Homo sapiens: one gene and its partners. The protein of the gene in region 2 interacts with the protein of the main gene of each other region in a pairwise test. Each region holds a gene or a part of one and is shown on either strand. Other genes may lie near its edges.

The links.
Region 1: the proteins of ROR1 (region 2) and DUSP18 interact in a two-hybrid assay, tested with the Homo sapiens proteins (one study listed by BioGRID and IntAct).
Region 3: the proteins of ROR1 (region 2) and ILKAP interact in a two-hybrid assay, tested with the Homo sapiens proteins (one study listed by BioGRID and IntAct).

What each region holds. Positions count from the first base shown.
Region 1 is NC_000022.11:30,663,203-30,674,629, forward strand, and holds the start of DUSP18 (dual specificity protein phosphatase 18), read right to left. Parts: upstream 4,674-11,427; 5' UTR 4,260-4,673; intron 3,737-4,259; exon of another isoform or gene 3,605-3,736; intron 2,358-3,604; exon of another isoform or gene 2,356-2,357; coding exon of another isoform or gene 2,291-2,355; intron 1,920-2,290; exon of another isoform or gene 1,753-1,919; intron 879-1,752; 5' UTR 802-878; coding exon 235-801; 3' UTR 1-234. UniProt on the Homo sapiens protein: Can dephosphorylate single and diphosphorylated synthetic MAPK peptides, with preference for the phosphotyrosine and diphosphorylated forms over phosphothreonine. In vitro, dephosphorylates p-nitrophenyl phosphate (pNPP).
Region 2 is NC_000001.11:64,174,668-64,184,231, reverse strand, and holds the end of ROR1 (inactive tyrosine-protein kinase transmembrane receptor ROR1 isoform 1 precursor), read right to left. Parts: intron 6,805-9,564; coding exon 5,377-6,804; 3' UTR 2,734-5,376; downstream 1-2,733. UniProt on the Homo sapiens protein: Has very low kinase activity in vitro and is unlikely to function as a tyrosine kinase in vivo. Receptor for ligand WNT5A which activate downstream NFkB signaling pathway and may result in the inhibition of WNT3A-mediated signaling.
Region 3 is NC_000002.12:238,199,206-238,210,759, forward strand, and holds the start of ILKAP (integrin-linked kinase-associated serine/threonine phosphatase 2C), read right to left. Parts: upstream 4,491-11,554; 5' UTR 4,349-4,490; coding exon 4,294-4,348; intron 1-4,293. UniProt on the Homo sapiens protein: Protein phosphatase that may play a role in regulation of cell cycle progression via dephosphorylation of its substrates whose appropriate phosphorylation states might be crucial for cell proliferation.

The DNA of each region.
Region 1 (11,427 bases), on a different chromosome or scaffold from region 2:
GGCCAGTGTCACTCACAGGGCAGAAAATTTATCTTCACCATCTCACAATTAGTTTAATCTTAAAAAAAATGGATTATAAAGTTAAAAGCTACAGCAACTCTTTTTTGTGCTCATAAAAGGCATCATCTGTTTTTTTCTGTATCAACAAAAGTAGAATGTTCAAGTTTGGATCTTGGTGTAAGATCAACAATAGATCTGTACCTCTGACTCCAATGCAGGGGCTCGTGGGATGGCTCACAGTGGAATCATCAAACGGACTTCCTTCTCATAGATGTCAGGGATCATTCCCACTGGGGAACTGACCATGTGCACAGTGTTCTTGCCAAACAATTGGAACTCATAGTGGATGAGCTGCTCCCAAAAGCCGCTGTTGGGTCGGATGATGGGCCGGCATGACTTGGTCCACGTGTGGGCGTCCAGCAGGGACATGGCGTGGTACTTCATGAGGTAGGCGAGGCACAGGGCAGCTGAGCGGCTCACACCAGCAGCACAGTGCAGCAAAGTACGGCCCTGCTTCATCTCCACGCTGTGGATATGGTCAGCAATAGGGTCAAAGAAGTCACAGAGACGTGAGTTAGGGGAGTCAGCCACAGGTACCTGCATGTACTGGATATCCTCATACAAGGTGTTCACTACCTCCACTGAGACATTGATGACCATGGTGATCTGGTTGCTAGACAGCATGAGCTTGTTGTTGGCGGCCACACCATTGCTGATATACAGGCTTTTGGTTATCTGCGAGAGGCCGCTGACTGAGGGCTGCCGGAACTGAACTGGGAAGGCACACGAGGGTGCTGTCATCAAGGCGGTGGGTCAGTGGTCAGCAGTCAGCGAAGCACGAAGGCTGCGTCTTTCTGCTAGGCTGTGTCCATGGAAAACTGCAGAGAGGGAGAGGATGTTTAGAGGGCAGGTGCCCAGAGGGCCAATTCCAGGGGATCCCTGGGAAATGGATGGATAGGCTTATAGCATTCCCCAAGGCAGTCCTCTGACCATCACAGCAGAACTACCCAGCAAACTCATTTAAAGTACAGATACCCAGGTCCCTCTCCAAACCCACAGTCAGACTCTCGGGGTGAAGAGCATGAATCTGCATTTTCAGCATGCTTCTCAGGTGGTCTAATGTGCACTGCCCTATAGGACAAATGGCAAGTCCCCAAGTCTGGCACTTGAGGCCTCCCTTGAGGGGTCCCACAGCTCTAGTTGGGCAGATGACTTGTGTCCCTCAGCTGTGCCTTGGCCTGATTCTCCATTTAAGCTCACAGAGCCCTTTTCTTGCTGCTCTTCCAAATTCTCTCCTTCCTTCCAGCCCCTCTGAGTGGGAACCATTTGTACAGTCTTCCTCCTCAGTCTTCTGACTTTATGCCCAAATCATAAGGTCCTGAGCCAGTGGCATGGAACCAGAGCCCACTGTGCTGGCAGTCACTGAGGAGGCTGGTATAAGAGTAGGGAGGGTTCCCATTTTCCCCCTCTAAGAACCATCTCTTTAAAGAGACAGGATATGCCCATGCGAAGCTGATGTCAAATACAAAGTCCTAAATTGTTAGACATGCTCCTGCACCTTGCCTCTGAAGAAGGCCTGGGAAAGGGAGTGGCTGAAAGCTTCCTGGAAGCCAGCATAATGGGCACCACAGCAACCCCAGGGACAAGCACAGAGACAGCAGGGCCTTAGGAAGACCTGCCACACCTGCATCATGCTGCCTGCAGCAGAGCTGTGAAACACACCCCAGGGAGAGGCAGACCCCTTCCCTTCACCTGCTCGATAGGCTCAGTCGCCGCTAAGTAATTGGGGTAGAGGTTCAGCCGCAGATCTGCTTCCCGCGCCGCAGACCGTGCAGTCGTCGGTGCTCCTCAGGTGCGGCCTGGGTGCCCAGAGCATTCATTAGACTCTCGGACCCTCACTTTCTCAGTCTTAAACAAAGCTGCAAAAACCAGGACATCTTTATACATTCCGCTGAAATAGGGACATTTGGATTTAGATCACACCTTTCAAGGCCAAGTGGCAGTCTTCACCAGGCACGAGAAATGAGGAGCCAAAGTTTTGTTTCCCTGCTTAATATATTTCAGTGGCTATCCACTGTGAGGATAAGATGGAGCCACTTAGTTTGGCTGTCAAGGCCATTTGTGACCTGGCTCCTGCCTGTCTCTCCAGCCTCTTATTAGGCTTCTCCATGCTCTGAAGGGCCTCAGGTGAACCGAGCCACTTACAGTTCCTTAGGGACAACCTGTCCTCTCCAGCCAGTGGCCTTTGCCCCTGCTGATCTCTCAGTCTCTTTCCTTATGAACCCATCAGATCCTGATCTGGTCCATTCAGCAGAGGACTGCAGAAGTCTGAGGAGCCTTAAGATATCAACTTAAAGGTAACTGTTTTAAGGGAAATCTCCTTAGATCACACCCCTCCCTCACGTTTGACCAACTCTGCTCCAGGCTTTCTTAGCCCTATGTTCTCTCCTTCCTAACACTTACTGAAGACGTAGTTTTGCTCCGATCTGTCTGATTATTTGATTAATGTCTGTCTCCCCAAGAGACTGTGAGCCCTTTAGGGATATGATGGTGTCTGTCTTCACTCCCACTCTATCACCAACTAGTGCCAAGCGCTGTGTCCCCACAAGTAGGTGCTTGATAAATATTTGTTGAATGAAGAAATGACTCCCAACAGCTATGACTCTGCCTTCTGAGAGGTTTTCTGGAAAGAATGAGTTCTCTGGCAGCGTGTCTCCAGAATTCCAGGGAGGGGCTGGGTGGGGATGGGGGTGGTTCTGAGGCTACTAAAGAGAAAGACCAAAGGTTGTATAGGCAAATCCTACCTGCCAATGCCCCAGACTCAAATGCATCAGGCTCATTCCCGGAAGGACAGAGAGGGCTGGCTTGCTACAGAGGTGATATGAAGGGCAAAGAAAAAGCCTCCTGAACCCAGATGGAAGTCTAAATGCTAAGGAATGTTCTGGATCCTCGTCATCAGAAAATCCATAGAGAAGTGAACTGATGTCCCCCCAAACCAGTGCCCAGTGGGTAACGGGAATAGAGGAATGTGCTGTTCATTATAGCCACTAAAAGTCTGCAGAAGTGACAATGCTCTTGCAGGTGAGGGTAGTGATGCGAGGAGTCATTTTCATGCTAGTTAAGAAATATCTATCAGGGCTGGGCACGGTGGCTTAAGCCTATAATCCCAGCACTTTGGAAGGCCGAGGCGGGCAGATCACCTGAGGTCAGGAGTTCAAGACCAGCCTGACCAACATGGTGAAACCCCCGTCTCTACTAAAAATACAAAAATTAGCCAGGCGTGGTGGCATGGGCCTGTAGTCCCAGCTACTCAGGAGGCTGAGACGGGAGAATTGCTTGAACCCGGGAGGCGGAGGCTGCAGTGAGCCAAGATCGTGCCACTGCACTCCAGCCTGGGAGACAGCGTGAGACTCCATCTCAAAAAAAAAAAAAAAAAAAAAAAAAGCAATCTCTATCAGGCACTGTATTAGGTGTTGGAGATACTGAAATGTACAAGACAGGCATGGCCCCTTTTCTCAGGGAGCTCAAAGACTAGTGGGAGAAACAGATAGTAAACAGGCAATTACAGGCAGACAGAGCTTGAAAATAGGATAACAGTACCTACCTTAAAAGGATGTTGTGAAATTAAACGAGATAATCCACGTAAAGAGTTTTCTCAGGGCTTGGCATAGAGTAAGCCCTCTCAAAATGATAACTATTTTTCTCGCTTCTGATAGGGAAGTTAAAATGCAGGGCTCTGTGAAAGGGAAGTGTAAAAAAGATTTCTTCCAGGTCGGAGCCTAGGGAGTCGCAAAGACCACCTGAAGAAATCACAAAAGATCTAAAGAACGTTTAGCTTGAGAGGGAGGAGGAGAAAAAAATAGCAACTCGGTAGCAGTTCAGCTTCACCACTTTACAGCCTATGAAGTATTTGGCTTCCCTCATCTGGTTCGATCTTCAAAGCAACCTAATCAGACCGGCGTCTAGAGTTAATATTTCCATTTTACAAAAGAGGAAAGTGAGACACAGCGCGGAAAAGGACTTGTTCAGAACGAGTCATAAAGCAAAGAAGCCGACCTTTATGGTCCATTATGTGTGGGAAAAATGAACAAACACCGCGGGGCGTTCGTGAAATACTAAGTTATAAACATGGAACAAAGTCCAAGAGTTAACGAGAGCGAAGCATCACTTCTAGGGGTGGGCCGGGTAGGTTTCCTAGGGGAGCTGGCATTGGAATAGGCTTCTTCGCCTGCTTAGTGTCAGGACCCCCAGGGTTTTACCTCTCTCCTTCAGGCGGGTGGGCGGGTTCGCTCAGGAAGTAGCCGCTTGGGGAAGCCTTAGGCAAGGTTCTTCGGGAGAGAGACCCGTCATGATCCCGCAGCCTCAATCCCCGCTGGCCTAACGCTTTGGTTTCCATAGCAATGGGCTCGTCGCAGAAAGGAATAGCCTGTGCCGGGTCTTCAGAGAAATCCTGGCCTCGGCTCCACGCCCCTGAGCAGCCCCACCCTGGCTCAACCTGTTACCCGCCCTGCCGGCAAGCCGGGGTCACTGCAGTCCCCGTGGCGAAGCAGGGTCAGCTCAGCTCACCGCACCCCACTCCATCCAGCCCTGCCCATCTCTACGGCAACGGGCCGGGTCGCACCAGGGCTGCAGCCGAGAGACAGTCTCACCGCTTCCGTAGCCGCCCGGGCTCTGTGCGCATGTGCGACACTCCCTCCCCGGCCCCGCCCCCTTATGCGTCTCCCAGGCAACGCGCCGCGCGGGGCTCCAGGTTCCGCCCAGGGACTAACTCCAGGTCTGCGCGCGTCCAACGAGCACGGCTCTCAACCGGCCTCCTGGCGCCCAACGACCATGGCTTCCAACCGGCCTCCGTGCGCCCAACGACCATGACTCCCAACCGGCCTCCAGTTTCCAACTGTTTCTCGAACAGGGAAGCCGCCATGACACAGCTGACTACGCCCTTGGTCACAGGGGACCTGAGATCCTCCACGATTTACGGGACCGGCGCCACCTCGGGCTCGAACCACCCTCTCGATAGGGCCGCCGCTAAGTAATCGGCGTAGGGGTTCAGCCGCACATCTCCTTCCCGCGCCGCGGACCGAGCAGTCGTTGGTGCTCTTCAGGTGCGGCCTGGGTGCCCAGAGCCTTCGTTAGACTCTCGGACCCGCAAGGGAGCCCGAACTCTTTCAGACTCGCTCTCCCTCAGCCGGACCTCGGCCCTTTTTCACACCCCAGGGGAGTCTGGATTTCTCATAGTCCTGGGCACCAGCCCCTTCCCAGTCTAGCTCTTGGGACTCCCTGAAGCCGGAACTCCCTCGCCTGGACTCCCGGGAGAACCTGGAATCCCCATCTCCAGTCCACATTTTCTCAGAATCTGTCCTAGCCCTTCAGTCTCCCAGGCATGACATCGTGTGGTCCCAGCGCCCTAGGTGGTGAGCTGTGACTCTCCTTAGAGCCTGGCGAGGCCGAGGTCCTCCCCAGCTCGAACCCATCCCACACTCCCCTTCTCAGCCTCTGTGTTCCCCAGTGGTCCTGGAAAAGCCCCCAGTTCCCTCTGCCTGGCCCCAATCCTCACAAACCCAATTACCCACGCTCCTTTCCATTCCATAACCCCCATCACTGCATCCTCCAGGCTCCCATCCATGGAGGACTTGAGGTGGAAAGCAATTTGGTTCAAAATAACCATTATTTATTACTTGAAAGGGAATATTTCCAGTCGTTGCCAGCCTCCTCCCCTTCTAGTATTGGTAAATTTTTTGCACCACTGAGTGGGTGAAGAGTTTTATGCGTCTTTAAATGTTTTAAGGATTTTTTTAAAAAAACAAAAAACTCTCAGGATTTGGGGGACTTTTGTGTTTGAGCATCTTGATCTCTAAACCAGCTTTTTCCATCACCTCACACCTAGGCTATGCATAGAGGTCAGAAAAATGTAAATGAGAGATTGAGAAGTTGGATTGTTCATACTAGTTTGTAAATATGAAAACATTCACAACACTCCAGTTCCAAATAGGCTGAAAATGCATTAGAAAAACTAGTCCTTCAATATTTTTTATCCTTCTACAGTTGTCTTTTTTGACCCAATTATAAAAGTAGTGTACACTTATAGAAAAATGAGGACAGGCATGGTGGCTCACGCTTGTATTCCCACCACTTCACTTTGAAACGCTGAGGCAGTTGGATCACCTGAGCTCAGGAGTTCGAGACCAGCCTGGGCAACAGGGTGAAACCCCATCTCTACCAAAAATACAAAAAATTAGCCGGGCTTGGTGGCTCACCTGTGGTCCCAGTTACTCAGGAGGCTGAGGTGGGAGGATCACTTGAGCCTGGGATGTGGAGGTTGCAGTGAGCTGAGATTGTGCCACTACTCTCCAACCTGGGGGACAGAGTGAGACCCCGTCTCGAAGAAATAAAAAGAAGACAAGACAGGCCAGCAGCATAAGTGGCTAGGGACAATCACTGTTAACATTTTGGTGTATTTTGATCAGAATCCATTCATATATATATATATATATATATATATATATGTTACAACATGCTTATACTTAAAAAAGATACATCACAAAAGTTCACTTTTTAGTAACCTGCTTTTTTCTCCCATCTAATATACCACCCGTCTATGTTTCATACACAATTACATGTATTTTATTTTATGACATACCAAAATTTATTCAATTGCTTCCATACTGTAGATTTTGTTTCCGCATTTTAGAAAGAAAATATGAACAATTTTTTTTTTGAGACAGAGTCTAGCTCTGTGGCCCAGGCCCGAGTGCAGTGGCACAGTCTTGGCTCACTGCAACCTCTGCCTCCTGGGTTCCAGTGATTCTCCTGCCTTAGCCTCCTGATTAGCTGGGATTACAGGTGCTCACCACTACACCCGGCTAATTTTTGTATTTTTAGTAGAGATGGGGTTTCACCATGTTGGCCAGGCTGGTCTCGAACTCCTGACCTCAAGTGATCTGCCCACCTTGGCCTCCCAAAGTGCTGGGATTATAGGCCTCAGCCACTGTGCCTGATCCTGAAGAATTATTTTTAAATGGGCAAAACCATTTAAAGGTATTTATTTGTAAGACTACTTCATGGTGTAACCAAATTATCAAAAAGTGAAAATGCAGTGCTTAGAAGTATATCCACTCTTCAGCATTTCCTCATTTTGACCAGATTGTTATATTTTCACCTGGAGTACCTAGCTCCATTCTACCCCACCCCACCCCATGTTTCACCTCACCTTTCAGAGTCTCCTAAAACCCCTGTCCACCCCACACCTCCCTATTCTAAATTTTCCCCAAACCTTCTTCTGGAATTCCCCTATTAACCAGCCTAACATCTGTCCAAACTCTTACTTTTATTTCTCCCTGCTCTGATCTATACTCCCCCAAGCCCCCGCCTCCCAGATCCCCTTTAGGCACAGGGTCTAGAGCAAGTGCTCCCCAAGCTAAACACCTCTCAAATTCATCCTTCGAACCCTACTCTACAACTTTTACTCCTCCCCTCTAAGACCCCTCTCTCCCATTTCATCCTTAAGAAGGATCATCAAGATGACTGCTTTTGGCTGGGTGGGCATGGTGGCTCTCACGCATGTAATCCTACCACTTTGGGAGCCCAAGGCAGGCATATCTCTTGAGGTCAGGAGTTCGAGACTAGCCTGGCCAACATGGTGAAACCCCGTCTCTACTAAAAATACAAAAATTAGCCAGGTGTGGTGGCGCATGCCTGTAATCCTAGCTGCTCGGGAGGCTGAGGCAGGAGAATCGCTTGAACCCGGGAGGTGGAGGTTGCAGTGAGCCGAGATTGTGCCACTGCATTCCAGCCTGGGAGACAGAATGAAACTCCATCTCAAAAAAACAAAAGACTGCTTTGGAAGATGGTTCTGAGTTCCTGATAACCCTTCTCTTGTGGACTGCACTGGGGCCCTTTTACAAACACAGAATTGCTTTTCTTCTGGGTGTCCATGAAACACCCCTTTAGCATATCTTTCCACAAGAAGAAACTGTGGTTACTCCCTTGCTTCTCTGAAAATTGTAACAGAGCTGCACTTGTCCTAAGATACCCGGGGAAGCCTCAGCCACTCCCCCAGGACCCTGTCAAATCTGCTCTGGCCCTGGCCTCAGCCATCTGTAACCTGTGTCACCTTTCCCTCCCCGCTCCAGCTTAATGATTCCAGTGAAGCAGCAGTGAAAAATTTTTTACTCATATAAAAAGAGCAGTTTATCTTGGGTGGGTTTTTATGACAAGCTCATAGCACAACGACTCCATGAGGTGCAGGTAAAGTAGCCACAAGCTTTTGCATTAGAGGGTGTTAGTGGCTTGACCCATATTCATTTCATTCTCTCTATATCCTGGGGGATCATAAAGGTGATAGGAAGTCCCCAAGGTGCTCTAAGGCAGGCCCCGTTTTACAGAGGAGGCAATTCACACTCAGGGTTACTGACTTGCCCAAGGTGTCACACCTGTTCCTAGGCTAAGGAGGCTAGAAAGACTCCATGTCTCTTGGTTTTGTTTTTGTTTTTGTTTTTCCTGAAAGCACATTATCTCTCTAGGGAACCCATGAATGGATTCTTATTTTCTCCCATACAAAGTCTTGGGTTCTAGGCTGGGCGCGGTGGCTCATGCCTGTAATCCCAGCACTTTGTGGGAGGCAGGACGGTCACTTGAGGTTAGGAGTTTGAAATCAGCCTAGTCAATGTGGCGAAGCCCCGTCTCTACTAAAAATACAAAACTGATCTGGGCATGGTGGTGGGTGCCTGTAATACCAGCTACATGAGAGGCTGAGACATGAGCATTGCTTGAACCGGGTGGTGAAGGTTGCAGTGAGCTGTGATAGTACTCCAGCCTGGGCAACAGAGCAAGACTCCGTCTCAAAAAAAAAAACAAAAACAAAAAAACAAACAAGCAAAAATAAATAAATAAAACCCCCAAAAAACTAAGGTCTTGGGTCCTAGAGTTTGAATCAGCATTAACAGCATCTTGTCAGTTTTTTCCTTTGGGGATTATCCCCATTTTCCAGATGAGAACTGAGGCTCTTCTCCCACTTTTTGCTTATGGACAGGTAAGAGTTTGACTCAGGCTTACTCAAAAGCCTGAGTGCTGTCACCTACTGTTCCCATAGACCCTAATTGATGAACTCATTAAACCTGTCCTTAGGGCCTGCTTGGGACAGCTACTGTGTTGGGTGCTAGGAAGAGACACATGAAAAAGATGGACACCAATAACATACTCATTTTTTCAAACAGAGCAGGAAGCCCAGGGTTGAGCTTCTGCCCCTTCTTGACTCTGTTGACTTCTCTCCATGTTCCAGGGTCAAGTCTGGATGGGCCCACAGGATTCTAACATCAAAAACAGTTGGAGATCCTTAAGAGATGGTGCCAGATCCTCTTGAAGGTCACAAAGACAAAAGCAGAGCAGAGACCTGGGCATTTCTGCCTCTGCTAAACTTCCAATGGTGGGATGTAGTGGAACTAGATGGGCAGGCCAGCTTTGTGTGACCTTGGGTGAATCACACTTCCTCCAGACTCTGCTTTCTCATTTGTAAAAATAGGATCTATTAAGATCCTCTCAGTGGCAGGTAATATAAACTGAACTTGAACTAGTTCAAGCAAAATAGAGAAGTTGGGTTTACATAATCAAGGATGGATAGGGCACAGTCGCCAATGTTTTAGGGGAGAGAAGCCAGGGGCTGTACTACCACCAGGTATGTCTTCCATTCTGTCTTCATTGTCTTTATATTGTGTCTCGTCTCGTCCCGTCCCATCCCGTCTCGTCTGTTTGAGACACGGTCTCACTCTTGCCCAGGCTGGAGGCCAGTAGCATGAGGCTCACTGTAGCTTCAACCTCTTGGGTTCAAGCAGTCCTCCCACCTCAGCCTCCCAGGTAGCTGGGATTACAGGCATATGCCACCATGCCTGGCTAATTTTTTGAATTTTTAGTAGAGATGAGGTTTCACCACATTGCCCAGGCTGGTCTCAAACTCCTGGGCTCAAGTGATCTGCCCTCCTCTGCTTCCCAAAGTGCTGGGATTACAGGCATATGCCACCGTGCCCAGCCCTTTGTGGCTTTCTGAACACCAGTATCATTATCAGGCTGGCTGAACCTGGGGAGCAGAGCCACAGGAAACCTTGGCCTGTAGACCACAAGAAGTACTTCCACTGCTGCTCCAGTTAGACAAATCCTGAGGAAGGACTCCAGTTGGCCCCAGTTGGTTCATGGGCCCATCCCTGTTTTAATCACTGTGGCCAGGTGGTGTGGGGTATTCTGAGTGGCCCACGATAGGTTCGGGGCCAACTGGGTGGGGAATGTCGTACACCTTAGGTGGGGCAAGGAACTGTGAACTACTCTTAACTGGAAGCTCCTGAGTTGGCTTTATGTATACCTGAGGGCTGTGCCAACTTTCAGCTGTCCAGAAGCTTCCTTTTACTTTTTTTTATTTTTTTATTTTTTATTTATTTTTTTTTGAGACAAAGTCTCCCTGTCACCCGGGTTGGAGTGCAGCAGCGTGATCTCAACTCACTGCAGCCTCTGCCTCCTGGGTTCAAGTGATTCTCCTGCCTCAGCCTCCCGAGTAGCTGGGACTACAGGCGTGCGCTACCACGCCTGGCTAATTTTTGTATTTTTAGTAGAGACGGAGTTTCACCATGTTGGCCAGGCTGGTCTCAAACTCCTGACCTCAAGTGATCTGCCCTCCTTGGCTTCCCGAAGTGTTGAGATTACAGGTGTGAGCCACTGCGCTGGGCCTTGGAGTTACCTAGCTTAATGCCCACTTTTTACAAATAAATAGACTCCCTGTGAGTCAAAGTATTTATGGAATGAATATAGTGTGGAGAGAGCTTTAGAGAAGAGCAATAAGGAGATCAGCCACTAATGAAGATCAGACCACCTGATAAAAACTTTATGACAGACCAGCTCAGAAAGCTGGGGCACTGGAGACGGGAATCCATGAACATCCACCAGTACTTGGATAACATTTGTGTATACCAGGAATAGTTGAAACTCCAGTCTCCCAAGAAAGACCAGCCACTCTAGTACTGGCAAAGGGATCTGCCCCAGGGCCACGATGACACTAGTGTGATCAGAGGAGAACTAGAAAATAGCCAGGCTACATGACTGTAAAACAATAGACAGAGACCAGCAGACAGCAGGGCATAACAAATCCTCAGCAATCCTCATATTCCTTCCCCATGCGTCCCCTCTATTCTGGTGAAGGAGGTCCTGATAGTCCCATGGATGCTTACCTCAAAAAGGCAGGATCAAGCTAGCTTCCATGGTTAAGGTGAAGATTGACCTCTCGGTGCCCACTTGTCTGAGGTGACATGCTAGGTGAGGTGTGCCGGGACAGTGGTACCTTAGATGGGAAGGCCCCAGTAATGCCACTGCCTGGCATTCCAGTGGTAAGGAGGTGTGGGGGAGGCATCAGAAGGACCTGGCTTAGGTGCTGTATCTACCACCAGTCAG
Region 2 (9,564 bases):
ACCGTGACGAAATCACCTAAGGACATTTCTCAGAATGTATCCCCTTCGTTAAGTAATGCATGACTGTATTTACTAACATAGTCATTTGGTAAGGTATCTTGCCAATCCCGGTCAGCAAATGTTATGGTACTCATTTGTGAGTAAGCAATTCATACGTGCTTAAGATTCAACTAGTCATAAATATGTCAGCAGACCTTCTCCCTCTATATGTCTATATTTTTAAGCCTTCCCAGCCTAATTTCCCAGAGGATTACATTGACCTTGAGTGCTTTGATGGTTTGTAAGACTCTCCTTTTCTTGAGCTAACAGCGTCCTATTACCATTGGCATTTACGGTAACAAACTTCAATGCAGTCATATTTTGGCTGCAAAAACCCTTTCTTGTGTGTGCTCCCTTGTTCTTTCTCCGCTAATCTGGCACTTCCTCTTTAGCATTAGAGCTATTGGCTGAAAAAAATGCGTATAAATTAAGAAGAGTATGAACTGCACCCCAGAACCTCCCTTGGATCCCTCTTTCTGTCCTTCCTCAGAGCTTTCAGCCCTTTAAAGGCAGAGGAGAGCAAAGTCCGGGCAGAAGAGCACTCATGGCCAGCCAGGGACTGATGATGGATTCCAGCTGGCCAAGGAAAACAGCAGAACAAGCCACAGGTGTCTGCATCCAGCCAGCTGGGTCAGGGCATCACAGGAAGTGCAAGGGAGGGAGGGGAGCCCCTGCAGCAGCTTCCTGCTTGATGCTTACTAGGGCTGAGCCTATCCCTCCTCCCAAAGACCAGCCTATCCTTGACCTTATCTTTGTTAAGTTGCAACATAGAAGGGATTTTTGTTTTGTTTTGTTTTGTCAATCATCAGTTCATGGGTCAAAAAAACGCGTACTAAGAGACCAACTTCTTTGAGTTTGTCCATATGAAGGAAAAAGCATTTGGCCACTATCCAAGAATTTAGGTCTCAGGTGAACTGGATGAGGAATATCTTCTTGACAAAGACTACATGTTGTCAGTTTTCTATCCAAGGGAACAACTTCAAAAAATATAGCTAATTGTCAAATGGCTAACACAAACAGCTTTTAGTGCTGAATTTTACAGTAAAACTTGATTTTCTTTAAAGGGGAATAAAGGGGCTAAAATGTTATTAAATGCTTACGTGCACATTACTAAGAATGTAATGATCGGCCTGGCGCGGTGTCTCATGCCTGTAATCCCAGCACTTTGGGAGGCTGAGGCGGGCAGATCACAAGGTCAGGAGATCGAGACCATCATGGCTAACACGGTGAAACCCCATCTCTACTAAAAATATAAAAAATTAGCCGGGCGCGGTGGTGAGTGCCTATAGTCCCAGCTACTCGGGAGGCTGAGGCAGGAGAATGGCGTGAACCCGGGAGGCTGAGCTTGCAGTGAGCTGAGATGGCGCCAGTGGACTCCAGCCTGGGTGACAGAGTGAGACTCCATCTCAAACAAACAAACAAACAAACAAAAGAATGTAATGATCACCCACCCCCGTGCCTTTAAATTAAGTCAGTTCTTGATCTTTAGAGTATATCAGAATCATGTGAGGCTTGCTAAAACACAAATTTCTGGGTCTCATCCCCAGGATTTCCTCTTTAGCATTTGAGCTATTAGCTGAAAAAAAAAAAATGCTGTCTAAATTAAGAGGATGAACTTCACCCCTAGCATCTCCCGTGGATCCCTTGATTTAGTACTTCAAAGTAGGGCTTGATAATTTGCATTTCTAACCAGTTCCAGGGTGCCGCTGTTTCTTTGCTCTGGGAACCACACTTTGAGAAGTACTGGGATAGGTAATCATCTTAGAAGATGTGTGGATAAAAGAGCTCCTCTTTATTCAGTATTGTAGTAGGCATTATGGGAAGGTGATGCTAGGAGTTTGCAGATGTTGGTGATTAGGGAATTAAGGGAATCTCAGAGTTGAAGGGATTGGGGATGGCAGGAGGGTCAAGAGCTGGGAGATAAAAGAAGGAAATGGGGGTAAAAGGCAGGCTGAGGAATTCAAGTGAGAGGGAGAAACCCAGCCTGACACGGATCTCACTGCCATGTGAAGGGATTGCTTTATTGAGTTTGATTGTTGAGGTGGTGACAAGAGCTGTACCTAAAACAGATGGATAAGGCCCTAAAGGTTTTATTGTATTCCTTTCTGTGTTAAATAGCAGATATGGACAACTTCTTTGAACTTTCATTATGGTACTCATTTTCCTTGACCATGTGTATTAATTGCCAGATGAGGAACTCTTTCTTTTGGGCAAATAAGGTCATAAAGATAAGTTGTGACAATTAAATGGCCCCATTTATTTTATCAGTATGTTTGGAAGCTAAGTTGGGCATGATAAGATGTACACAGCCTCTTCTTCTTTAGAGTCCAAAGAGGTGACTTTTGATATCTAAGATTATATGGAAATATTAAGGCAGAAAATGATGCAACTATATTCTTAAAATCAAATATTTTTTATATTCCATTGGTTGTAACTATTCAATATATTATTTTGATTTTAAAAATTCAAAGCTTGCCATATATAGGTGGATAGTATTCAGTTATGAAATCATTAGGATTCCCCTCTCCACCTATGGTTGCTAGCAAAATAATGCCCAAGTCTGTTTTAAAAGCCTACTGAAAAAAAAAAATTTAATGAAATAACAGCAAATAGGAATTGTGATTCCTCTTTCTATAAAATGTAAATGTTAAAATCCCCAAATACCTCTATGACAGCAATATTCAGGAAATAATATTTTATAGTAAACATTTTTAATAAACAGCAGCATAAAATAATCAGTGTTTAATATCATCTCTGGTGTGTGAAATACAAATGCATATATCCTTAATATAAAATAGCCTTTTTGTCATTACAATTCAATGCTTGCCTATTTGAAATGCCCATAATAACAAATCAAACATTAAGTAATACAGTGATTAAATGCATGCAGTGAAAATAAGGAAAGATATGGTAAGGTGAGATATCTGAAAATTGCCATTATATATTTGAAGAAAATCTATATCAAGTTAAAAACAAAGGAAACAAGAAAAACAGACCAGATATAAAAATGCAAAGATATATTTTCACTTCTGTGACACAAACCATAAGCATAGTTTTGTGCAAAAAAGGAGAAAAAGATCTGAAAATAAAGTCATCTTACAAAACATTGTCAACAAAGGAAAAGATATTTTTCAGCTTGTGAAAAAAATACTATTTTAATACAAAAGAGACTGTGTTATATAGTATCACAGTGCGATTATAAAATACATTATTACAAGTGGTTTTGAAATTTCATTTGCTCACTTTAATGTTTTCAGTTATTATAAAATGTTTAAAATAAATGTTATAGTTCTTTATAAAAAACTAACTTGAATTTACTTTTTAACCATAATAATGTTTTACCAGAGTAGGTATTTTACTGGCTCATGGAATGCTAATTTCCCTTTAAGGGACTCCTAGAAAAACTCAAGATTCACTGAAATTGTGTACTTAAAATAATAAATATTCTTGGAAAACAATTGATTGTCATATGATATACAAAATTGTGGTTTGAAGCTTCATCATTAAACAGTTGCATAGCAACAAAAGGATACAAATATTCTCCTCTACCTAAAGTTAAGAAATGTAACTTCTGAATCAGCTTATTTATGCCACAAAAATATGTTTTAATTTATCTCCCAGAAATCTGGATATAACCAATTCTTCTAGTTCACAGTACCTATAAGTTCATGTTTGTTATTTGAAGACTCAGGTTTGGGAAAATTGCAATGCATTTTGGTAAACATATTTTCTTGATTTCTCATGCTAGTTGTATTTTTTAAAAATGAAAACATCAATGTGTTTTTCATTCTCTTACATTCTCCTCATCAAATATCATTTCCAGGAATTACTTTTATATCCCGTAAGTCTCTTTAGAAGTCTCTTATACCTTTAAAGTAAAAATGAGACTTTGAGACATTGTTCTTAGAATAAAGGAGTTTTTTTTTAACAAGAGAAAAATCAAAAGTAAAATTACTTTCTATATAGAACTTGAAACGCATAAGAATTCTAAACTTGGCAAAAGATGGTCGGCAGGTAAATGCCATGAGCTGCACATTTGAAACCTCCCACTAAGGCAAAAATGGTCATGTTACTTCGGTTTGCTAGTTTAAAGAATTCAGTTCTTGGTAACTTTTGAAATGAGAACTCAGTACTTGTTTTTTAGGAAGACCATCATATTTTGCAAAATAGAATTAATTGCCTTTGGATTCCAACTGACTGTATGAATACATTGTTGTAATTCTTGGGGCGGGAATCAAATCTGTGAACATTTCCAGCACAGAAAAAAAGGGAAAGAAACTTTAAAATTACTAGACATTTGTATCATGATGGAGTTTCCTACTTCCCTAGAGCCCATTGACCATAAGCACTCCAATGCCTCGGACAACTTGTAAACAGGGAGTTGCAAGGGGTGGGCGTGCTCATCTGTAGCCACACACTTATTTTTCAGTGTTACTGGTTCCAGAAAACTCCTATGGGGGCTGTCCCCATGGGAACCCTTTTTCCTTTCCCACAGATGCTGATCTAGGCTGTGGGGCCATTTTCCTGGCTGTGCTTCCTTTGGCGCCTCATTCCTAATCCAGCAAAGAGAACTATCAACCAACAATCAATTCTAGCATCCACATCTAGCCTTCTTATGGTCTGATGCGCTGTGTTATTCCAAGGGCAGTGTAAACACACTGTGAGAAACTGTGGGAAAGACCCTCATGATCAGAGGAGGATTCACAAAAAGGCACACTCTACACCTTCCCAAAGAAGCACAACGACATAAAAGGCTTCAGGGCTTGTTATACTTCCCTTATGGCTCATTTCCCTCCAGGGTTTCAAATTTGGCCTGAAGTTTCTTCATGGATTCTGAACATCATTTCCATAAGAACATGCACAGAGTCTAAATTCAATCAATATAATTCCTGAACATCTGTCCTGAAGAAAAGACAGCAGGTAGACAAATGCTATGGTATATATACATCTGGGGGAGAGACCAGTCATGGTGACTGAAGGCTAAAACACAAAGCACCATTTGACTTTTGGTTTTATATTTAATCACAAGGTTCTTTTCCTCTTCACTGGTTTGCAGCTTTCAGTGCTCGAAACCACATGTTCCAATCCCAATGCCATGTCATGCACTCCAATGGAGTGCACATCCCACAATGTTTTTGTTTGCTTGTTTTTTTTTTTTTTTTTTTTTTCTGGCCGAGTGTCTGTCCTGCTTGGTAAGACACAGTGAAACTTCACAGAAGGTACTTGTTGCGATGTCTGCTAAATGAGAACCTTACTTTAATAAAAACATTTGAATATAAATCTTTTCTACGGCCGTCTAGTTTGTCCTGTATACCACATTTACAAAAGTTGTGCATTTTACAGTTCTGCAGAAATCATAGATTCGGTGTGTCCATGAATATTGGCGTCTCCTAGTAAAGATGCTTGCTTTGAGTCAATTTTGTAGGGTTTTTGAGATTTGTTGCCAAAAACGGTGATACCCATTCCACCAGGATGATTTGGAATTGACATGTGTGGTAGTAAAGGAATATTTGCTTCCTGATTGGATCCTGATGAGGGCAAGCTAGTCACATGGCCAGTGCTAGTCGACCCACTGGCACTGCTTGGGGACCGACTCTTGGGAGGTGGGCAGTGCTGAATCACTCTGGGAGGACCTGTTGGCTGGTAGTGGGCAGCTGGAAACGCTGCATATCCAGGAGGTATTGGGTATCCATTGATGGGAATGAATCGCTGGTTCTGAGGTATTGGCGGGCCAATGAAACCAGCAATCTGGCCCTGTGGTGTAATACCCTGGCTCGGGAACATGTAATTAGGATATCTGGGGTTACTGAGATTACTCACTGGGCTGGCACTGAGGGAGGTTGTCTGTGTGGTGGCATTTCCCCCTGAAGGAGTAGTAGAGCTTGTGTGACTTGAGAGTCCCTCCCAGGACCGAAGCCGGACGTGAATATCTTTAAATCTTGGTCTCCTAGAAGGAATCTCATTCCAGCACTCTGTCATGAGGCTGTACATTCTGGGTGGGCAGTCTTCAGAGCATGGTAAGAGCTGCCGTTTTCTCACCATCTCAATCACTTCCTGGTTACTGAATCCATAATATGGCTGGAGTCCAAAACTGAAAATCTCCCACAAGACAACCCCAAAGGACCAGATATCTGAATCAGAAGAGAATTTGCCATACATGATGGCTTCAGGGGGCATCCAGCGAATGGGCAGCAAGGACTTACTCTGGACCCTGTAGTAATCAGCGGAGTAAATTTCTCTGGAAAGCCCCAAGTCTGAAATCTTTACATGAAGTTGCTCTCCGATTAAAATATTGCGAGCTGCAAGGTCCTTGTGGACAAAGAAGTGACTAGACAGGTATTCCATGCCAGCTGCAATCTGAATTGCAATGTGCAGAAAATCTCCGTGGTCCAGGCTGGATTTCACAGTCCCATCTTCATCACTGCTGCAGCCAACATCAGAGTGTGGGGATCTCATGATGAGGAACTCATGGAGATCCCCCTGATTAATATACTCAAAAAGCATGCACACAGGTTGTTCCTGAGTGACGGCACCTAGAAGGCAGACAATATTGGGGTGGTGCAGTTCTGCCATTAGGGAGGCTTCTTGTTGAAATTCCGTCCATTGCTGGGGGTTGTTATAGTCTTTCAAGGTCTTGATAGCAACCAGCTGAGCATGGTCCATGCCTGGGAGATAGAGATGGCCTTTATAGATTTTTCCAAAGGCACACTCACCCAATTCTTCCATAAAGCGTACAGCAGAAAGAGGTAGCTCTTTAGCCTTGCTCTGTATGAAAGAGAGGAAAAACGTGGTTTAAAACATATCTTCAGGCAAGACAGCTTTGCATCCGAAAGGAGGGACGGGGCATATAGAAAAAGGTTCTATAAACAAATTCAATAAAATATTGTAGGTCTATATATCTTTCAAATCGTTGGCTGCAACTCAGGGGAGGTGCCATAGACAACTTTCCATCACTACCCTATCCCTTTCCCTCAACCCAGCCACAAAATGGTTTTTTGCTGTTGTCTAGAGTCTTGGTACTCAAACTGTGGTCTGGGGACCAGCAACATCAGCATCACCCAAACTTACTGCAAATGCAGACTCTTGGGCCCACCTCAGACCTACTGAATCTGCATGTGCATTTAACAAGACCCCAGTGGTTTCTGTGAAGATTAGGGTGTCAGAAGCACTACCACAGAGGCTACAGCCTGGTACTCAGAGCATTTGTAATCTGGTCCTAACTCACTTTCCTGACATGATCCCTTGCTACTTCTCTGTGTGATGGCATCACTTTAGTTAAATAGGTTTTCTCAATGTCCACTCCTGAAACCATTTACATTCTTGCCTAATACTTTTGTTCCTCCAATGTTCTGCCATTCTTCGAATATTTATTGTGCTAAAAGAGAAACCAAAACAAAAGATTGTCCTTCTGAAGTACTCACAATAGAGATGGGAAGGTCTGAAATGCGGTCTTCTCCATTGATTAAATCCTTTGTTTTCTAAAAAGCCTGTTTCAGGCCCCACTTCCCGCAAAACCTTCCCTGACCACTATGGTCATTTCTTTGCTAGACTCTTTTGCCTTTACTGTGAATGCCACCACATACACAAAGCAGTGTGGTGGCTGGTTACACAAGTGGCCTCCATAGCCAGTCTGAGTTGGAATCCTGCCTTCTCCACTTACCAGCTGTGTGACCCCAGATACAACATTTAACTTTTGCCTCAATTCCTTCATCTATAAAATGGGATGATAATAATTGTACTTACCATGTTATTGCAAACTTTTAATGAGTTAATGTTTGTAAAGCACTCAGACCTATGAGTTAAAGTTTGTAAAGCACTCAGACCTATGTCTGGCCCATGGTAAGTACTATTTAACTTTTTGTTATTATTATCAACTTGATGTTTCTGTTCTTTTTATGCATGTATTTTGTCCTCACAACGAGATTTCAAGGGAAATCTTATTGGAAGCACTGCCCTTCATACCAACGTATATCCCTAGGTCTTCGCAAGTGGGTTGTTTATTAATTGACCTTAAGACAGACAGGTGAAGGCATTAGCTCACAATGAAAATAAGTATTGAATCATGACATTTGATCTTGGCAAGTAAATGTCTATAATGTTATATGTTTTTACTATTTTAAAATGTACCTCAAATTTAGTCTGATGTTTCATTTAATTTGTTAGAAAAGAAAGTAATAAAAACAATGCATTTTACATACAACTGATTTTTCAAATAATCCCCATCCTTCAAATCCTTATTTTTTAAAAAAGAATACTACCCTGAAAATTCTAACTGAAACTGACAATGTTGAAATACATATGAAATCCAGAGCTCTCTGTACAGAGTTTAAAACAACAGTTTAGATAATTTGGTAAAAAAGTTCTCTTATCCAAACTCTACTAATTTAGAATTCATGATGATTAGATTTGTTCTAGGCTGATATTTTCCAGGGCAAAATGCCCACTAACCTAATTGTAAGTGTAAATAAACTTGCAGCAAAATACTCACTTAAAAGGACAAATTGGGATTGGGGATTTTGGAACATTAATTATTCTATGCAAATAAACTGTCTCATTATAAATTGGTCTTATTTGTTCATCAAAGCAGATTTTGTGAGGTTTATATTTGGAAATGAGTTTTAGAAAGTTTACTTGTGCTGAAAGTAATGGTAATTTGTTGCTTTAAACTTTCAGTAAATTAAATCTTATTGATCTAGTTCTATTCAATATAGTATTGTTTGTAATAGCAAAATATTATCAATGACCTCCATGTCCCTATAGAGAATATATTAAATCAATTACAGTGGAGCTAGTAAATAGAATATTCCACATTTGAAAAAAAAGAATGAGGACGTTTCGTATGTACTGGTATGGGAAGGTCTGCAAAATCCTTTGCTCAGCTAAAAATAAAAAGCAACAGAACAGTTAATGCTGGATGCTGCTTTTGTGTAAGAGAGAAGGAGAAAAAGAACACATGAAACATATTTCTTTGTATAAGAATAAAGAAACTACGAAAGGATACTTGGGAAATAGATAGCAGTGATTATTGGGGGTATGGAAGTAGAAACTAGAAAAAGGGGGGCAGAGGTTCTGCTTTTCTATGCTTTAAAATTTTTCAACCAGGTGAATATATTAAATTAAATAACTATTTAATTTATTAAATTACTATTTTTTTAAATTAAATAACTATTTTTTTAAAAAAAAAAAAACAATAGGCGAATCTTCCCATCTTACTGAACTAGGAAATATCTTTTGCAATTGTAAGTCCATCCACCATTTTTCCTTTTGCTTTTAGGGTCTGTATTCTTGTGGGAGCTTGTAGAATTCCTTTGAGAGAGCAAGGTGTGGGTGATGAGAAAGGTAACCAGTTGAGCCAACCCTACTTTTTTTGTCTTGTAGCACTCAGATGATTTTACTTTTGCTGGCAAGAGTAACTCAAGGTGAATTTTTCCTGCATGACATTAAGATTGGAGATTTCCATGAGAACTTTTCCTAATGATGTAAATAAATCCAGTTTAGGTGAAGGTCCCTTGAATGGCAAAGTAG
Region 3 (11,554 bases), on a different chromosome or scaffold from region 2:
TTACTGATGGGTTCAAGCTTTTCCCAGTTCTTCATATGATAAGTGACGCCACAATCAACAATCTGATACATGTATTCCTGCTTAATCTGCTAGACTGCTCGTCAAAGGATATTAGTTTAAATCTGATAGAAGCCAAAATCTGTTCCCCAAAAAGTTGTAATTTTCACTCCCAAAACACTTTATGAGAAAGTCTACTTCGCTACACATTCACCAATGTTACCAACTGTTGCTAATCTGATGGGTGAAAAGGTAAATAGTTCCTCAGCAACTTTCTGTTGATGGGCCATTTGTATTCCTTACCTCTGAACTGGGAGGATACATCCTTTGACCATTTTTCTAGTGGGTTTTATTTTTTCCCATCAATTCTGTGAGCCTTTCTTATACCCTTAGTAATGTATATTGCAATTATTTTCTCGGTTTGTCTTTTGCCTTTATAGTATCATTTGTCCTGCAGAAATTTTAAATTTTTACATAGTCAAATTCACTTTTTTATGACTTTTTTCTTGTTCAACCCTGTAGTTTTACAATCTGTTTTCCTCTAATACCTTAACCTTTATGTTCAAATATTCTTCTTTTTTTTTTTTAATCGTAGAGACAGGGGTCTCACGAAGTTGTGCCAGGCTCTTCTCAAATTCCTGGCCTCAAGCCATCCTCCTGCCTTGTTCCCCCAAAGCGCTGGGATTACAAGTATGCGCCATCGAGCCCAGCCTCCAATTTTTTTAAAGTATTTTTAAGATGGTGTGGCCATCAAATATTTTATTTCCTCCTCAACAACTGACCATCAATTTTTAAAGTACTAGTGTAGCAACCAAATAAGTAAAAGAACCACCCTATAAAAGTGAAATCAAGTTACTGGCGAAGCAATTTTAAACCATGACACCTTCAACTGACATACATGGATTGTCAATATAAGCTGCCAATCTTAAAGACATCAGGTCGGCACTTTTATGGGTATGACATAGGAAAGTTCCATTTCTGCCTGATATGAACAAACACTTTTTTTTAGGTAAAATATATACATCTCTCCTTTAAAAAACTTGATTCATTCAGCAATTAAAACTTTTAAGGGCTTGGATGAAAACTACTAATTTAGCAAAATACCTGAAATATTTAGTGCATTCTATGTATTTTTCTAGATTATAAACATTTAAGAGGTTTAGGGGTGGGAACATTAGATGCAACGTTTAAAACAAAAATAAAAAGATCTAAACAAAATATTAATACATTTGATGTGATATAAGCAGTGTAGTATTCTCCCTTTGGACACTCAGTGCTTTCCCATAATTCATTTAAGACTGCGTTTTTCCACTTTTAAACAACTGTTAATGGCTCAGCCAGGCACAGTGGCTTACCACTGTAATCCCAGCACTCTGGGAGGGCCAAGGTGGGCAGAACACTTGAGCCCCAGGAGTTCGAGAGCAGCCTGGGCAACATGGCAAAGCCTTGTCTCTACAAAACATACAAAAATTAGCTGGCTGTGGTGGTGCGCACCTGTAGTCCCAGCTACCAAGGAGGCTGAGGTGGAAGAATCACCTGTGCCCACGGAGGTCGAGACTGCAGTGAGCTGTGTTTATGTCACTGCACTCCAGCCTGGGCGACACAATGAGGCTGTCTCAAAAATAATAACCCTGGCTAACATCTATAAAACACTATACATTCTACCCCACACTATGTGCAGCACCATACATACTGTACTAATTTGTACAGTAACAGTGGCAAGTGTCACCCCTTTTTACACATGTAGGAATAGCCACAGAAGGCACAGTTAGTAAGCGAAGAGCTGGATTCTAAACCAAGTAGTCTGGTTACACTTTCTGAACAACTTTTCTTGCGCTCTGGGAAAATAACGAGGTCTTTTATTGTTCACTGCATTAGAGATTTGTGGTACCCACATATCATGTGTGAGGGTCATGATGCACAGTTTAGACTCATTATTCCATTCACTTTAGCAATCAATATGATTTATTCAAAGTATGTTTTTTTTTTTTAAATCACAGTATTTTCACAAGTATGTGAAACCAGATTCTGTTCTTGTACAAACGATTTTAACCTGTCAAATCTCATCTTGTTGGTTGTAGCTAACAGCCTGCAATGATAACTATGGATCCCAATTGTCACTCATTTTAGTACTTATCCCTCTCAGCTTCCAATCATCTACAAATTCTGAGATCTTCTTCGTTTTAAAGCTATTTTTAAAAATACACTCAGCCAAGCAGGACCTGTTGACAATGTCAGTGCCCTCCTGGCAGATGGGGAGCAGCTGACCAATCCAATCTCAGGGTGGTCAGCAGTTTAAACACCATGCACCCCCTCTGCCACCCTTTCAGCTCAGTCAAGGTTGGAAACTGAGTTTGGAAAAAACGGCAACAGGATGTACCTTTCCCACTGTATCTGGCAAAAGGCTGCTAAGGTGCCAACCTATGAGATTCTGAGTTGCCAGGTTTTTTGTCAGTCAAGGGAGCCTGCTCCTGAGCAGAACCTAATTAATTGCAGGTAAAAAGCAATGGAGATTTTAAGACTCATAGGTTTACACGCACACTGGTGAATCCAAATGCTGTCCCAAATATATTCAGATAGAAATTATACTCCATTGACAAGAGAAAAAAGACTGCTACACAAATCCAATTTTTACCCACAGCTAAAACCGTGGTTATTTTGAAAATGAATGGCTGAGTCAAGTTCAAAGACTCCAGGACCAGTTACTGAGATGCTCTGTACCATCAGAACGGTCAGTGGGGGCAGGGCACGGTGGCTCACACCTGTAATCCCAGCAATTTGGGAGGCCGAGGCGGGCGGATCACCTGAGGTCAGGAGTTCAAGACCACCCTACCCAACATGGTGAAACCCCGTCTCTACTAAAAATATAAAAATTAGCCGGGTGTGGTGGTCGGCGCCTGTAATCTCAGCTAGTAGGGAGGCCTAGGCAGGAGAATTGTTTGAACCCGGAGGTTGCAGTGAGCTCAGATCTCACCATTGCACTCCAGCCTGGGCGACAAGAGTGAGACTCCGTCTCAAAAAGTAAAATAAAATAAAATGTTTTCTCGCCCAGAATTACTGCAAATCACAAGCCTGAACATCCTTGGAAGCTCAATTCAAACACTGCCTCCTTCCCCAGTCTCTCGGTGCCCGACAATCCCTCCTCAAGAGTCCTCAGCATTTCCCACAGTCATTAACTTTTGCCAGTTTTAATTACCGTAATTAGTACCCTTCAGAAAGCAGCTCTTAGAAAGCGAAGGCTGGGCCTTACTCACCTCCGTCTACCCTACAACAGCAGCTCCCAAACCACTGGTCTCCAGCCCCCGCTGGGTTGGCCTGGGGATTTAGTAACAGATTCGGAAACCCCACTCTCAGGGATTCGGATTTACTGGGGCTGAGGTGGGCCTGGAAATCTGAACGTCTTAAGTTTTCCAGGTTTTCTGCCCCCAAGTTAAATTTTGTAATAAGGCCCTAAACTACAACATCAAGCTGGAAGTCTTGCATATGAAATATTCACGCGTTTTGACAGATGAAACCCGGAGACTGTAACCCACAGGACGCAGGGATTAACACAGGCCCTGTTTCAAGCTGCTAGGATGCTGAGCTCAAACCACAGCCCACAGGGACTCCCACTGGCAGGGGCCAGCGCTTAGGAGATGAGCGGACCCCTTAACTTCAAGGAGAGGGGGAACTTCCCGTGGACCAGAAAAAAAAAAAAAAAACTACTGTTAATTATCACAAAATCACAGGATGACAGAGGAGGCATCCTGTCTTCCAGGCTTCAAAAACACGAAGGATTAAGATGGTGATTAATTCAATCTCCAGTGCAAATAAAAACGCCAAGCCCCTGAACTTGCACCGGCCCGGAACGCGGCCGTTCCACAGCCCGCGGGTGAAGTGCGGCCCGGAAGCCGCGGGCGGGCGACGCGCAAGGCAGCCCAGGCCGCGGGTGGAATCGGGGCGCGGGGGCCCGCGGTGCCGCCGGGCGTTCAGAGCCGGTCCCTCGGGTCGGCCCACGCGGTCGCGCCGGCGCCTTTCACCGCCACGCAGAGGGGCCGTGGCCACGACGGCTCGGCCCTTTCCTTCCTGCGTAGCGAAAATGGCGGAGCGGCCTCTCCGAGCTCCGCGAGCGACCGGGCCTCCGACAGGGCCGCCAGTGGGCCGGACGGGGCCTGGCCAGGCAGGAGCAGGCCCCGTGCAGCCCGCGCCGCCCGCCGCCTCCCAGCGCGGGCGCCGCCTCAGCCGCCCCGGGCCTCAGGCCGCCCCCATCCCGCCTGCTCTCCCTTCCCTGGCCGGCCCGGCGGCAACGCCGCTTACCGGCAGCCGGGCGCGGCGAGCGCTCGGGCTCCGGCAGGTCCCCGAAGAGGTCCATGGCGGAGGCTGGGTGGAGGCGGCAGCAGCGACAGACACTCAGCCCGCGAGCAGCGGCCGGGCTCCACACCCCGGGCGGGCGGCAGCAGCGGGCGGGCGACGGGCAGGGGCGGCCGGCGCCGTCAGTCACCTGCAGGGAGAGTCCCGGACGCCACCAATCGGCGCGCGGCGTGGCCCGGCCGCCCCAGAGGGCTGCGCGCGGGCTGGGCGGGGCGGCTGGGGGCGGGGCGGTGCGCATGCGCGTGGGCCCCTCCCGCGCCCCGACTGCGAGCCGGGCGGACGGCGCCGTCTGGGCCCCGCGGTGTTTCCCGCCTTGGCGAACCCCGGGCCCCTCCTGCTTTTCCTTGGCTGGGGGTGTCCGATTTCTGTCAAGTTTCGTTGAGTTCCTGTCCAAGAAGCCCTGTCCAGAGAGAAACGTCTGAGCTCAAGGGCAGCCCCTGATGCCTGGGAAGGCTTTCTGGAGCTCTTGCCATCTCTTCGGCTCGTCCTTTCACCACGGCGTGCCTGGTTTCTGGCCTGTTTTAGAGACTGAGAAACCGAGGCTTGGATGGAGCGGCCCTGGGCGTCAGGACGGAAACCTCAAAAGATGCCGGAGGGAAAGGAGGCATTCCCTGACTTGTCTGCACCCACTGGTGTCTGTGGGGAGCGGAGAAGAGGGGCTCCTCCTTAATGGTGTCCCCCTCCATGCCTGTAAAGAGAAAGGCGGCCACTGACATCGGGGAGCTGGCCTGGTTCTGCAGCCAGGACTTGGGGTTGGTCTGGCACAAACAGCTAGGCCTGGGTGTTCTCTTTGAATGTGAACAATTTCATAAAACACCAACATCAGGCCGTGATACAGATCAAGAGAAAAAAACAGACCACTGTGTAATCAAGTGTGAACACAGACAAAACAGGAACACTGTCCAAGCCACAAAAGTGACCACATTCCCCTCGTCTTGGCCAATAAGAGTGATTGCTGCTTCTTTACCATTACATGTTTAGCCTTTGTCTCGTCCTCCTGCCGTCTAGATAAGCTTCATCAAGATATCCAATCATGGAATCCTCCTCTTCCTGACATCCAATCCGGAGCAAAGGCCCGTTTCCATAAATGTTTCCCCAAATCAACTAACACAAACCCAAATCTTACACCTCCGTTCCAACATCGTTTACCCAAGTTCCCCAGGTTATGTGGTCTCCCTCCATGCAAAGAGTTTTCAGCCCAGTTCATTCTGGGGCAGATGTATTTCTGACGCTCTCTGGCTGTAGGACATGGAGGGAGCCCAACAAGGCTTCATGCCTCTCATCTGCGTGGCTTCTCACTAGCAACCGTTTGAGATATTCATGCTGCCTCCTCCATTACAGCAGAAACACTCAAGTAACAATGCTTGTAACCGTTAAAGAAAGAGGAAATAAATACAAAAAGCGGCTCAACATTAAAAGGTTTATTTCAGAGAATAAACCTGAGAGGGGATTCTGGCCAATTTCGATCAGGAGCGCTCTCTCTTACAGACTAAGCATTCTCTCTTACAGACTAAGGATATTTAAGGGTTTTGGAAGTGGGGGAACGTTTATTGCAGGGTTGGAATGTCTCTGGTCGGAGGGGAGGCTATTGGAGGAGAGGTTATTTCAGGGTTAGCATGTTTCTGGTTGAAGAGAGGTTTATCTTAGGGTTGGAATATTTCTGGTTATGCTGACATTAGCCGTTAGGCTGATGTTTTGGGGTAGGATTTAGGTGGTTTTTTAATCAAGGGGAACTTAGAAAGGTGGTGTTTGTCCAAGATGGCAATGCTCCTGCTCTATCAATCCAGTCTCTATAGTTATGAAAAGGACAAGGGGCAGCGCATTTTTTCTGGCTACTTCCTGCTGGGGGAGTGAGCAGAGAGTTCTTTGGTTTCAGATTGATTGTAGGAGTAACGCTGTCTGTAGATGTTTTTGGGTAATTGTCTGTGAGATGGCCATGATCCTGCTGGTTAAAAATCTTTGAAAAAGGTGGCCAGGCGCGGTGGCTCACGCGTGTAATCCCAGCACTTTGGGAGGCCAAGGCGGGTGGGTCACGAGGTCAGGAGATCGAGACCATCCTGGCTAACATGGTGAAACCCCGTCTCTACTAAAAATACAAAAAAAAAAAAAAAATAGCCAGGCATGGTGGCGGGTGCCTGTAGTCCCAGCTACTTGGGAGGCTGAGGCAGGAGAATGGTGTGAACCCAGGAGGCGGAGCTTGCAGTGAGCCGAGATCTCGCCACTGCACTCCAGCCTGGGCGACTGAGCAAGACTCCGTCTCAAAAAAATAAAAAAAACTTAGAAAAAGGTTAATTAAGCAGGGTAAGAACATTATTCCTAGGCATATTTTTAGGAGAGAGCCCAGGAATGGGATGACCCATATTAGGACTTTGTTTTTAAACCAGTAATTTATTTGGTTGTCTTGTTATTCTCTTAGCTTTTTAGCCCTTTCTTTAAGTTTTTTAGCAGCGTCTCTTACTAGGCCCAACTGATTGAGATAGAAGCAACATTTTTTACCGAATGAGAGGCAGAGGTCCCCTCTTTCAGTTGTTATAACATCTAATTCCTGTCTATTTTGGAGGACTACTCCAGCCAAGGAGTCTACTCCAGCCAAGGAGTCTAGTTGGCCTTGGACTCTTATAAGGCTTTGGGCCATATGCTCTAATGAACTCTGCAGTTCTGTTGAAAGAGATTTCAAGTATGTTAAGCAGGTGGCGAATCAGCCTGCTCCCAACCCAAGCCCGGAGGTTATACCTAAGGCAGCCATTAAAGGAATGACGTGGATGGCTCTCCTCTTCCTAACATATTGGATGGATGGAACGGGTAAAGATTGATTAGGAGGAACTAGTCCAATGGAGGGAGAAAGATAAACTAGGGTACAGGTTCTGGTCTGGTTGATGGGGAGACAAAGAAATATGTGTTGAGACCACACAAAAAGAACAAGCCTTTATTGTAAATACAAGCAGAGATATGGACAGAAAATAAGTGAATTAAAGATGAGGTGTTTGTTCTTTCCTGTGGTTCATTACTCCAGGTGGACAAGGAGGAGGCCTGGGAGACACCTACTATACTAGAGGTATAGGAAGAGTTATTTTTTACAGATTTAATGCGGTCGGATGCTGCACTATTGATATTGAGCCAAGGAAAATTGTGGGCACTAGGAGCAGCACAGGTTAGGCTGGAGGCATTGGCTGAGGGAAAGGCTGTCAAACGAGCCAGCTGCAGAAATGCTCCGTTCGCTTCAGGTGATACTTGGTAGTTAGCCTGGTTAGTTTGATGGTCAGAGGGGTGTTTAACAATGATAGTGTGGTTGCATAGGTTAGATGTTAAGGACCCTACAGGGAAATTTCCCTCCGAGGCTGAAAAGCAAAGTGAGGCTCATTATAAGAGGAGGAGTGTGTTTAGTTATGGGCCCTTCAATGGGAGGGCCGTGGGGCTTAAGGCGCTGTAGGGAGTTATCCTAGGTTTGAAATAATTTGTTGGCCTGATCGGCCCTGGAAGTGGGATAATCACCGACTAGAGTGTCAGCTCTTTCAAAAAAGGAAGCTCCTTTTTGGAGTTTATAAATTAGGGTTGTGTTTCCTGTTAAAAGGTCATGAAGGAATGTAGGAAGGGCTGTGTAAGCTAAGGAAGACAGCGATAAACACACCCAGCATTCCAGAGCAAAGGAAGAGTTAGCTTGCCGCAAGAGAGATTGTGTAAGGTTTATAGAGCGTTCTAGTTTGAGAGCAGTGAGGAGTGGTTGTATTGATGAGGTTGATGTGATTAGGGAATTTATATTGAAAGAAACAAGCAAAAAGCGAAAAAAGTTATTTGGGTAGGAGTAAAGTCCTGGAAAGTTCCTTGAAGCCATAGGTCCCATAGAGCAGTAACGAGCTGATCAGGATGTATAATGGGAGCTTCCTAAGGGCACCACTGAAGGTCTGTAACAAGGTTAGTTAGGAAGTGATGAAAGTTTGGGAGAGAAAGAGACATAAGCGGCTTATGTGGATTTCTCCTCCTTTTCCTCAGGGATTTGGGTGAGGCGAAGAGAAGTGGGTCCTGGGAGACACGAGAGAAGGCCGAAGGGGTTTCAGACTTGGTTGTTTGGGTATGTGGTGAAGGGAAGTCTGTTTTCTTGAGAGAAGTACAATGAAACCAGCTGGGGAGTCCCTGGAGTTTCGGTGCTGTGGGTGTGGTAAGGATGATCTGGTAAGGTCCCTTCCACTTAGGTGTGAAGCAGGAATTGAGGGTAGGACTGGGGTATTTTACCAGAACCCAGTCTCCTGGCTGTAGGGAGGGATTAAAGGAGTCGGTGATGGGTTGTGGCAGGTATTTGTCAGCATATTCCTAAATGAAATGGCAGATGGTATGTACAAGAGGGGAAATGAGAGGGATTGGTGGAGGTGGGGCTTGACCCTGAGGTGGAGCAGAGGGGCAAATGGTCTCCCATACATGAGTTCAAAGGTGCTGAGCGTTAGAAGTTTACATTGGAGCACCCGAATTTTTAGAAGGGCTAAAGGCAAAAGTGTAACCCAGTCTTTATGTGTTTGGTGTGAGTACCTGGTGAGGGTGTTTTTGTAGAATGCCATTCATTTCTTCAACCTTTCCTGAAGATTGAGGTCGAGAGGGGAGGTGCAACTTCCAGGTGATTTGTAGGGCTTGTGCAAGTGTTTGAATAATTTGAGAAATGAATTCAGGGCCATTATCAGATTGAAAAGAAAGAGGCACCCCGAACCTGGGGATGATTTCTGTTATTAATTTGGAGAGTAGGAGCTCGTTTGTTGGTTGTGGGAAAGGCCTCGACCCGTACCAAAAAGGTATCAACCAGAACTAAAAGAAATCAAACCCTTTTTACTGGGGGCATGTGGGTAAAACCAATTTGCCAGTCCTGTTCTGGAAGGTGTCCCTTGGATTGATGGGTTAGAAAAGAAGAGGGTCTAGTGTTGAAGTGGGGTGAAGCTTTTTTGCAAACAGAGCATTGATGGGAAATGGCTTTTAACTGTTCCTTTATGTCTGGGGTTATGTATATATGGGAACTTAAGAAATGCTGTAGAGGGGAATGGCTAGTGTGGAAGAGGTTGTGAATGTCCCATAGAAGAAATTGTTTTTTCAGGGTCAAGTAGGACTAATTTGTTTTGTATGAACCAGTATGGGGGTTTAAATTGTCTGCCCCTACTGTGATTGGTTGTTGTGTTTGGTGTTCTGGATAAAAGGAGGGCATATGTTGTGTGAGGGGAAATAAGTATTGGGGAATTGGGTCGTTGGCTGAGGCGTGTTTGGCCCAATAGTCAGCCTCATGGTTCCCTAAAGGAATGTGGCTTTTGTCTGATTGATGTCCTTTGCAATGGATAACCACAACCTTTTCTGGAAGTATAGCTGCCTTTAATAGATGATGGATGAGTTTTCCATTAATGATAGGGGTTCCCTTAGCTATGAGATAGCCCTGCTCACTCAAAATTTGGGCATTGGAATGGATAACGTTACAGGCATATTTAGAATCAGTGTATATATTCACTTGTGTGTTTTCTGCTAGAGTTAGTGCTCTTATTAGGGCAACTAATTCTGCTTGTTGGGAGGATGTGCCCAAAGGCAAGGGGGCAGCCTCTATGGCTTTCTAGGTGGGAGAGAGTGGGTATCATCATGATATCCTTTCAATGATGGCATATCCTGCTTAGAGGGGAGAGTGTTTTGATGTGCTCCCATCTATAAACCAATCTGGGTCTCCTTTTATGTGAGTGCAAGTAAGGCGGTGATACATAGAGAACTTCCAGTTAGATCAGAGCATGAGTGTTGGTCGGGGTCTAAAATTGGTGTTGAAGGTAAAGAGTGGCGGGGTTAGTCAGGGAGCATCTATGAAGAGATATAGAGGGTTGAAGGAGAGTTGAAAGTAGGGCTTGCCTGCGAGAGGATGAGCTGGAGGTGAGCACCTTGTGGCTGAGCATATCTTGTAGACTGTGAGAAGAAAATACCTGAAGAGGTTCATAAAACATGAGATTTTGTGCCTCAGGAATAATTATTGCTGCTGTTGTGACCAAAATGTTTAAGCAAGGGGGCCAGGTTTTATAAATGGGGTCTAGTTGTTTTGAAAATATACCACTGGTTGGAGGGAGTTTGCCATGAGTTGGGCTAATAGACCAAGGGCCTGATTATGAGAACTGTGTAAATACAGATTAAAAGGTCTTAGGGGGTTTGGAAGGCCTAAAGTGGGGGCCTGTAATAACACACGTTTTAGGTGAGAGAAAGCATGATAAAGATCTGGGGTGGGAGTGAGGAGTTGGTCAAGATTTTCTTTTGTGTGTTCATAAAGGGATATAGCAACAATGGCAAAATTTGCTATCCATATTTGGAAATATCCCACTAATCCGAAGAAGGAAAGTAAGTCCCTTTTTGTTTTAGGAAATGGGATTTGTTGAACACCTTGCTTTCGTGCTGACAGAATTTGGAGTTATGATAAGTCCTGGGTATGAAATTTTTGAACTTTTCTTTTGGATACCCAGTACCCACATTCAGCCAAAAAATGTAAAAGCTTGGTGATGTGTTGAATACAGTATTCTAGGGAGGGGGTGCAAAAGAGTAAATCCACATATTGAAGCAAAATGCTGGGTTGTAGAGGTAGTTGGGAGAGGTCTAATTGAAGTGCCTGACCGAAATAGTGAGGGCTGTCCCTAAACCCCTGGGGGAGGACAGTCCAGGCGAGTTGTTGGGAGTAGCCTGTGTCAGGATCAGCCCAAGTGAAAGCAAAAAGGTTTTGAGAGAAGGGATGTACAGGGATAGTAAGAAAGGCATCTTTGAGGTCTAATACAGAGGAGTGGCTAGTGTTGGGAGGAATTCGTGATAGGAGGGTGTAGGGGTTTGGGACAACGGGACAAACAGGAATAATAGCGGAGTTGATTTGTCACAAATCCTGGACCAGTCTATAGGAGCTGTCTGGTTTTTTAACTGGAAGAATAGGAGTATTGTGGGGAGAATGGGTGGGGATTAAAATACTGGCACCCAAAATCAGGATATGATGGGCTTGAGTCCCTGCAATCCATCAGGGTTGAGGGGACAATGTTGGAAACACTATATAGTGCTTAGGATTCTTCAATGAAATTTGGGTTGGAGAATGGTGGGTAGCTATTATGGGGAAGTCAGCGTTCCATATGATGGGGTTTACATGGCTGAGAAATTTGAGATTTAAGTCTGTTTGATGTGGAGTGTCTGAGGAGGGCTTCTGTTCTTGACATAATAATAAATAAGGGTGTCT